Linked DNA regions of Homo sapiens. The protein of the gene in region 1 purifies or fractionates together with the protein of each later gene. This does not show direct contact. Each region holds a gene or a part of one and is shown in the gene's direction. Other genes may lie near its edges. The genes, in order: TFEB and PPP3CB.

Region 1 (3,814 bases):
CGCAGCATCAGAAGGTGCGGGAGTACCTGTCCGAGACCTATGGGAACAAGTTTGCTGCCCACATCAGCCCAGCCCAGGGCTCTCCGAAACCCCCACCAGCCGCCTCCCCAGGGGTGCGAGCTGGACACGTGCTGTCCTCCTCCGCTGGCAACAGTGCTCCCAATAGCCCCATGGCCATGCTGCACATTGGCTCCAACCCTGAGAGGGAGGTGAGTGAGGAGCTGGCCAGTGGCCATGCTGCTTGCAGAGCTCGTGCCCACTGCTGTGCTTCTGAGACTCCCAGTCTAATGGCAGAGGCAGGGGTGCCTTCAGGGAGACTCAGTCTGAGGTGGGGACAGAGCCCTTCTCAGGGAGCCCCAATCTCAGGGGGGAAGACACAGCCCTGCCCTCAGGGAGCCTCACAGAGGAAACGCCATCCTTACTTTCAAAAGCTCTGCTAGGAAGTCAGGTGCCGTGGCTCACGCCTGTAATCCCAGCACTTTGGAAGGCTGAGGCAGCCAGATCACTTGAGGTCAGGAGTTTGAGAACAGCCTGGCCAACATAGTGAAACCCTATCTCTACTAAAATACAAAAATTAGCTGGGCGTGGTGGTGCACGCCTGTAATCCCAGCTACTTGGGAGGCTGAGGCAGGAGAATCACTTGAATCGGGAAGGCGGAAGTTGCAGTGAGCTGAGATCGAGCCACTGCACTTCAGCCTGGGCGACAGAGTGAGACTCCTTCTCGAAAAAAAAAAAAGAAAAAAGAAAAAAGAAAGCTCTGCTAGGGAGAAACAGAAGACTTATCCAGGAAAGCCCAGCACACTCCCCAAGCCAGAGACAGAAGTGAGATCAAGGAAGCTCCCTGGGCAGGTAGGCTCCTTGGCAAGAACCGTAGCTTCATGTTGGGCCAGTGGGACCTGGACAGCTCATCTCTTCTCTGGGCCTATTTCCTCTTTCCCCAGATAAGTAGGTTGGGTGAGGTGGGCTCCAAGGTCCCTCCAGGTCAGTGGTTGTCCCAATGCCTCTTTCCCCTGCCCACCTCGTGGTGGGCCCTCCCCAGATGGACTTTTCTCTTTTCCAGTTGGATGATGTCATTGACAACATTATGCGTCTGGACGATGTCCTTGGCTACATCAATCCTGAAATGCAGATGCCCAACACGGTACTCCTGGCTAGGGTGGGGTGGGTGTGCAAGGGTTCTAGGGAGGGGGGCACCCACTGTGGCTCTGAGCCTGGAGAGAGTGGAGACAGGGTTCTCACTGGGCAGAGCTGGCATGTTTCTGTAGAGATGAGTCATTTTCATTAAATAATGTGACAAAGGCCGGGGCCAAGAGGAATTATGAAGCAAGAAGGATGTGCCTCAGCCTCTGTGCACCATGGGGCTTCAGAGGGGAGAAGGGGCTGGGGACACGGAGTGGGCCTGTGGGGGGAGCTTTCCAGGTTGGCGAAGGGGCAGAGGGAGGCAGGGAGAGCACTGCATGGGTGGAGGGGCAGTGTGTCTATGGGAAGGTGTGGAACTAATGAGCTCCTTTGGGGACCTGGGCCTCCCCTCCTTTACCAAACCCAGGGCCCAACAGGCAAAAGCCTGTCTGTGTCTCTTACTCCATGGGGCAAGTGATCTGGGGCTGGCCTTGTCCCCAACCACAGGAACACTCCCTCTGGCAGCTTCCTGCGTCTCCTGGCAGAGGTGGGGTAGCAGGTGGGGAGGTGCTGGGCTTGGAGTCAAGAAGCCTGGCTTCTGGCTTTTGCTGTGACCTTAGGAAATCCCTCAAGCATACTAAACCCCAGTTTTCTCAGCTGCAAAATGGGGGTGATGCTCTCTACCCACAGGATTGTGGGAAGATTAGATGAGGGAAGAAATTGAGGGCAAGCTCTCTACAAAGGTGGCAGGTGTGTACGCTGGGCAGGTGGGATTGCCAGCGCCCCTTCCACCCACTTTTCTTTGGAGCTCCTGAACCTCAGCTACTTACTCCTGCCTTTGGGCATGAGCCTTTCACCCTGATCCTGGCCCCAGCCCATGCCACCAAGGGAAAGTCCCCAGTTCCTGTGGTGGGGAGTCAATCCTCTGTCCCCACTGCCCTGGTGACATCGCTGAGTGGCTTAGTAGGAGCTGGCCGGGACTGGTTGGGTCCAAACCTACAGCTAGCAGGGGCAGCGAGGGCTGAGGAGGGAGGGAGGATGCAAGTGATTGGTCCCTTTAGTAGTTCCTGTGTACACTGTGGGGTGTCTGGGCCTGTGATTTGTTCTGCATGTTTCTGTGGCAGATCTTTCCAGAGCTCAGATCTCTCCCTGTCAGACTCCTGCTTCAACTTCCCTTGGCTGCCCATTCCAAAATTCCAGTATCTTTGCAAGTCAAACACTGTACTGGGGATCCAGATACATCTGCCCTGCCTACAGCACCTCCACCCCCACCACTTCTGCCCTTGAGCTGCTGGAATTGTGCTCTGCCAAGCTGCCCTGTCTGCTTGTGCCCTGGTGGCTGCCCGGAGTGCCTTGCCTCACATCTCTGCTCAAGACTCAGAGTTCCACACCCTCCAGGAAACCGTCCAGAAACTCTAGAATTGATTAGATGACCTGCTCTAGGGCTTCCATAATGCCTGGGGCCTAATCCTATCACATATTATTGGTTGGATCACTCTCTCAGACACTCTAGGCCAGGGGCTCCTTGAGGGCAGGGACTACATCTTATAATAGCTCTGGACTCTGCAGACCTTCAGGTTGAATTGCTGGGTGAAAGGGCCCAAGGTGAATTTTGACACTCCAGGTGTCCCCAGGAAGGACTGCTCCTGGGATGATAGGCCCTAGAGGGGGCTCCCCGTGGAGAGGGGGATACTCATGGGTCTCCCTCACCCCCTACCCCACAGCTACCCCTGTCCAGCAGCCACCTGAATGTGTACAGCAGCGACCCCCAGGTCACAGCCTCCCTGGTGGGCGTCACCAGCAGCTCCTGCCCTGCGGACCTGACCCAGAAGCGAGAGCTCACAGGTACTGCCTCCCTCTACCCCTGTGCCTTTGAATACCCGACTCCTCCCTCCTTTTCTCCCTCCCTCCCAGCTCCTCTCTCCTTCTCTTTTGGCCTCCAGATGCTGAGAGCAGGGCCCTGGCCAAGGAGCGGCAGAAGAAAGACAATCACAACTTAAGTGAGTCCTGCCCCGCCCCTCTCCCTGCCTCCCTCTTCCTTGTTCTCACCTGGGCTGGCTAAAAAGCCACTCCCTGACCTGCACTGGTGGAAGGCTTCCCTGCTCAAGGCCAATTCACTTGCAGATGGCTTAAGCCCTCCCATTGCTGTCGCTCAGTGGTGCCTGGGACTATTAGTGCTGTCTTTCCACTAGGCCTCTTTAGGAGTGGGTAGGAAGGATTCCTGTAAGGGATATTCATGAAACCCCCAGTTTATCAGGTTGTTTTCTGGGTTAAGGCATGGAACCTGGGGCATCAGAGTTCTGTGTAGCAGGGAAGAGTCCTACCCCAGGCAGCTTTGCTGTGCTACGAGCATCACCATGGCTGATTCTACCTTTCAGTGCTCTTAATTGTGTCTGGCCTTTGCCCTGGACCCCCTAATTCCTGTAGAAATCCCAATCTGTTGGTCACCTCTTACTTCCTGGAAGAACTAAATCTAAGCTGCAGGCTGCCCTGAAGCACCCCTCCCTGGGCTGGGTACTTCTCCCCATGGGGTGGGGGGTCCCCATCCCTCTAATTGCTCCTTCTGGAATCTGTTACCTTTAGTTGAAAGGAGACGAAGGTTCAACATCAATGACCGCATCAAGGAGTTGGGAATGCTGATCCCCAAGGCCAATGACCTGTGAGCAGGTTTCTGAGGGGGAGGGTGATGGGTCTG
Region 2 (3,814 bases), on another chromosome or scaffold:
ATATAAACCATGCTTATTTCCATATCAAATATTTCTTCCTTTTTTAAGCAAATAAGTAAAATGTGAGTCTCTTTCTTATGTTAAATCTATTTAGAGAATAGCATCTGCTATAATGTTTAATAATATTTTTATTTGAAAAATTACATTTGCATTGAATTAGTTCAGATAATAAGCACTTACCATATGTAAGGCAATATTCATAATCAATGAAACAAACATAAAACATGGACCTTCCCTTCATGGGCAGCATGGCATAATGCTTAAGATCAGAGGATCAGAATCCTATCTCCATCACTTAGAAGTTTTGTGGTTTTGGACAAGTTACTTGAGATCTTTGCTTCAGTTTCTCATTTGTAAAATAAAGATGATATTACATACTTCATAGTGTTGTTTGAGGAATAAATTAGGGGAATTATATAGTGCTTCACATATTGTAAGTACTTAATAAATGTTAGCTGCTGTTATTTTGACAGTATTATTTACTAATACGCATCTGTAGACCAGTGTGCTAATTGTTTTTATATTGGGCAGTCTGTAAATCCAAAGTAATTAAATAGATTGTTTGACTCATTCATTCAACAAATATTTATTGCTCTTCTCCTATTTGCTAGGTACTCTTCTGGGAGTGGAGAATCAAAAGTGAATAAGATGACAAAATCTGTGATTTTGTGGTGCTTATATTTTAGTAAGGGACAAAGAAAGATAATAGAGGATGGTAAGGGTAGTAGAGGAAAAGGAGCAAAGATCAAGCAGCTTCATTAAACAAAAGTACAAGATAAATTCACTAGAAAAATTTTCTTTTGCAGTGTGTCTTATATTTATGGGTTCTGAAGATTCTATACCCAAGCACATTATTTCTTCTGAGAGGCAACCATGAATGCAGACACCTTACTGAATATTTTACCTTTAAGCAGGAATGTGAGTACTGCCAGAAGAAATGTTTTCACTTCCTCAGTATTCTTTTGGACTTAAGTGGGTAGTAAGAGTTTTGAAGACTTTACAGTGCAACATGTAAGGACAGATTTCATGTCCACACATAAAGCTTTGAGGAAAGTTGTCGAGCACTCTCTGGTGTTTAATGGTATTAAGAAGTTTTTGGTGGGGCATGGTGGTTCACGCCTGTAATCCCAGCACTTTGGGAGGCCCAGGCAGGGGGATTGCCTGAGCTCAGGAGTTGGAGACCAGCCTGGCCAACATGGTGAAACCCCATCTCCACCAAAAATACAAAAAAAAAAAATTAGCTGGGTGTGGCGGCACACTCTTGTAGTCCCAGCTGCTCAGGAGGCTGAGGTGGGAGGATCGCTTGAGCCTGGGAATCGGAGGTCATAGTGAGCTGAGATCATGCCACTGCACGGACAATTGCCTGGGCAATAGAGTCAGACCCTGTCTCAAAAAAAAAAATTTTTTTTCATTTCAGAATTTCTTATTATGTTTAACTTTTACAAACATACTTAGAGTTTTATATATAAGTTTTAATGTTACAATTAATTTTTCTAAGCCAGGCACGGTAGCTCACGCTTGTAATCCCAGCACTTTGGGAGGCCGAGGCGGGTGGATCACCTGAGGTCAGGAGTTCAAGACCAGCCTGGCCAACACGGCAAAACCCCATCTCCTAAAAATACAAAAATTAGCCAGGCGTGGTGACATGTGCCTGTAATCCCAGGTACTCAGGAGGCTGAGGCAGGAGAATCACTTGAACCTGGGAGGCGGAGGTTGCAGTGAGCCGAGATCGCGCCATTGTACTCCAGCCTGGGCAACAAGAGCGAAACTCTGTCTCAGGAAAAAAAAATGTATATATTTTTTCTAACAGGAAAAAATAAAAACCAAAAGAAAAAAATGTTATTTTGCATTGGAGATTTTTGTCCTTCAATCTTGAGGCATTCCTGTGAGGAATCCTAACAAATTGTTTATCCTGTTACCATTGCAGATCATTTCAATCATGCTATTAATGATTGAAATTCTTCTTAAAATTTTTTTGTTTTTTTAAATATCATTGTTTTAAGACTAGTCAGGTACAGTTGGTGAAATTCTTAACCTGCAATGTTTATCCCTTTTCTCTCTCAAATTATTATAGCAATGGTAATCTAATACCTGTAAGTAACCATATGTTACAGAACAAGATTAGGCCTTTTTCACACCTCAAACCTTTGTGCTTTTTTATTATTTTTGTTATTTTTATTTTTTTTTTGAGACAGTCTCGCTCTGTCGCCCTGGCTGGAGTGCAGTGGTACAATCTCGGCTCACAGCAACCTCCTCCCGGGTTCAAGTATTCTCCTGCCTTAGCCTCCCAAGTAGCTGAAATTACAGGCATGCGCCACCACGTCCTGCTAATTTTTGTATTTTTGGTAGAGGCGGTGTTTCACCATGTTGGCCAGGCTGGTCTCTTAACTCCTGACCTCAAGTAATCCACCTGCCTCGTCCTCCCAAAGTGCTGGGATTACAGGTGTGAACCACCGCATCTGGCCTGCCTTTGTGCTTTTTAAGTTAATATTTATGACTGTATTAAGTAGAGTTAAATTCTAAAAGCAGAAATAATTTCAACGTTTTGAGACTCAAAACATGATCCAATAAAGGTCATACTAAGTAGAGACTTGCAGCAACAGGAGAAAAATACAGTGATGGGTAGTGGCAGAAGTGGCATACTCTTATAACTTCAAGGATCAGGCAGTTAACCTAAATGAGTAAGATAAGACCTGGAAAGTGCATGCTTGACCTAAAAGCAGTCAAATTAGAATTTTTATTAAACCACAGTGCTAGAAAACAGAGTCGTTAGCAGACTGCCAGTGTAGAATCTCTGGTTGCTGGATATATATATAGTTTTTTTAATATTTGAATATTACAGTATTAAAACAGGAAATAGGAACTAAGTTCTTTTTCTTTGCCTAGATAAATAACAAACCACCTACCAAAATCTCATCAAAACCAAAATAGGAATTTAAAGTTGTAAAGGAGCAAATGAAAGTGCATGATATCTCTCTAAAAGTAAATGATAGTTTGATTTGGTAGAGTTTTGTCTTTCTTGTGTTTCTATATTGGCTTCCTGCTTCACTGCCCATTTTAAAGTATTCATTGTAGGCAAGAGGAACCCCTCAGCTTTTCTGACATGAGCATGCTATTATCTTTTATTTTTCAGAAAAAATGGATGAACCTTGAATTTTGTTGTGATGATGTAGTCATCTTGCCTGTAATAAGAATAAAGTAGTCATTGACTCTTAGAATAAAATAAAGCAAGTATTAAAATGATTTTAACCTCAAGTACAGTTCTAATTTTGCCTTATTTGGCCGATAAAGGTGAAGGGTTGAGCTGTTTTTAAGAGATTTCTTTCTTTTTTTTTTTTTTTTGAGACAGAGTCTTGCTCTGTCGCCCAGGCTGGAGTGCAAGTGGCACGATCTCGGCCCACTGCAGCCTCCACCTCCTGGGTTCAAGTGATTCTTGTTCCTCACCCATTGAGTCTCTGGGATTACAGGTGCACACCAGCATGCCTGGCTAATTTTTGTATTTTTAGTAGAGACAGTGTTCTGCCATGTTGGCCAGACTGGTCTCAAACTCCTGGCCTCAAGCGATCTGCCTGCTTTGGCCTGTCAAAGTGCTGGGATTACAGGCGTGAGCCACCGTGCCTGGCCTGTTTTTAGAGATTTGACTGACTTATTTTTAACAATACGTGATGACTTTTCTGTCATCCAAAATAATTTTAGAGAGCAAATATTTTGCTTCATAAGACATAACATCATCGAGAATAATTTTAGAGAGAGCAAATATTTTGTCTTCATAAGACAGATAACTTTGCATATTTTTGTTGATTCTTATAGGGGA

Evidence for each region.
Region 2: the proteins of TFEB (region 1) and PPP3CB purify together in Homo sapiens (co-immunoprecipitation; one study listed by IntAct). This does not show direct contact.

Annotation. Positions count from the first base shown.
Region 1 is NC_000006.12:41,687,058-41,690,871, reverse strand, and holds part of TFEB (transcription factor EB), read left to right. Parts: coding exon 1-209; intron 210-1,060; coding exon 1,061-1,141; intron 1,142-2,843; coding exon 2,844-2,964; intron 2,965-3,062; coding exon 3,063-3,119; intron 3,120-3,702; coding exon 3,703-3,778; intron 3,779-3,814. UniProt on the Homo sapiens protein: Transcription factor that acts as a master regulator of lysosomal biogenesis, autophagy, lysosomal exocytosis, lipid catabolism, energy metabolism and immune response.
Region 2 is NC_000010.11:73,472,023-73,475,836, reverse strand, and holds part of PPP3CB (serine/threonine-protein phosphatase 2B catalytic subunit beta isoform), read left to right. Parts: intron 1-806; coding exon 807-918; intron 919-3,814. UniProt on the Homo sapiens protein: Calcium-dependent, calmodulin-stimulated protein phosphatase which plays an essential role in the transduction of intracellular Ca(2+)-mediated signals.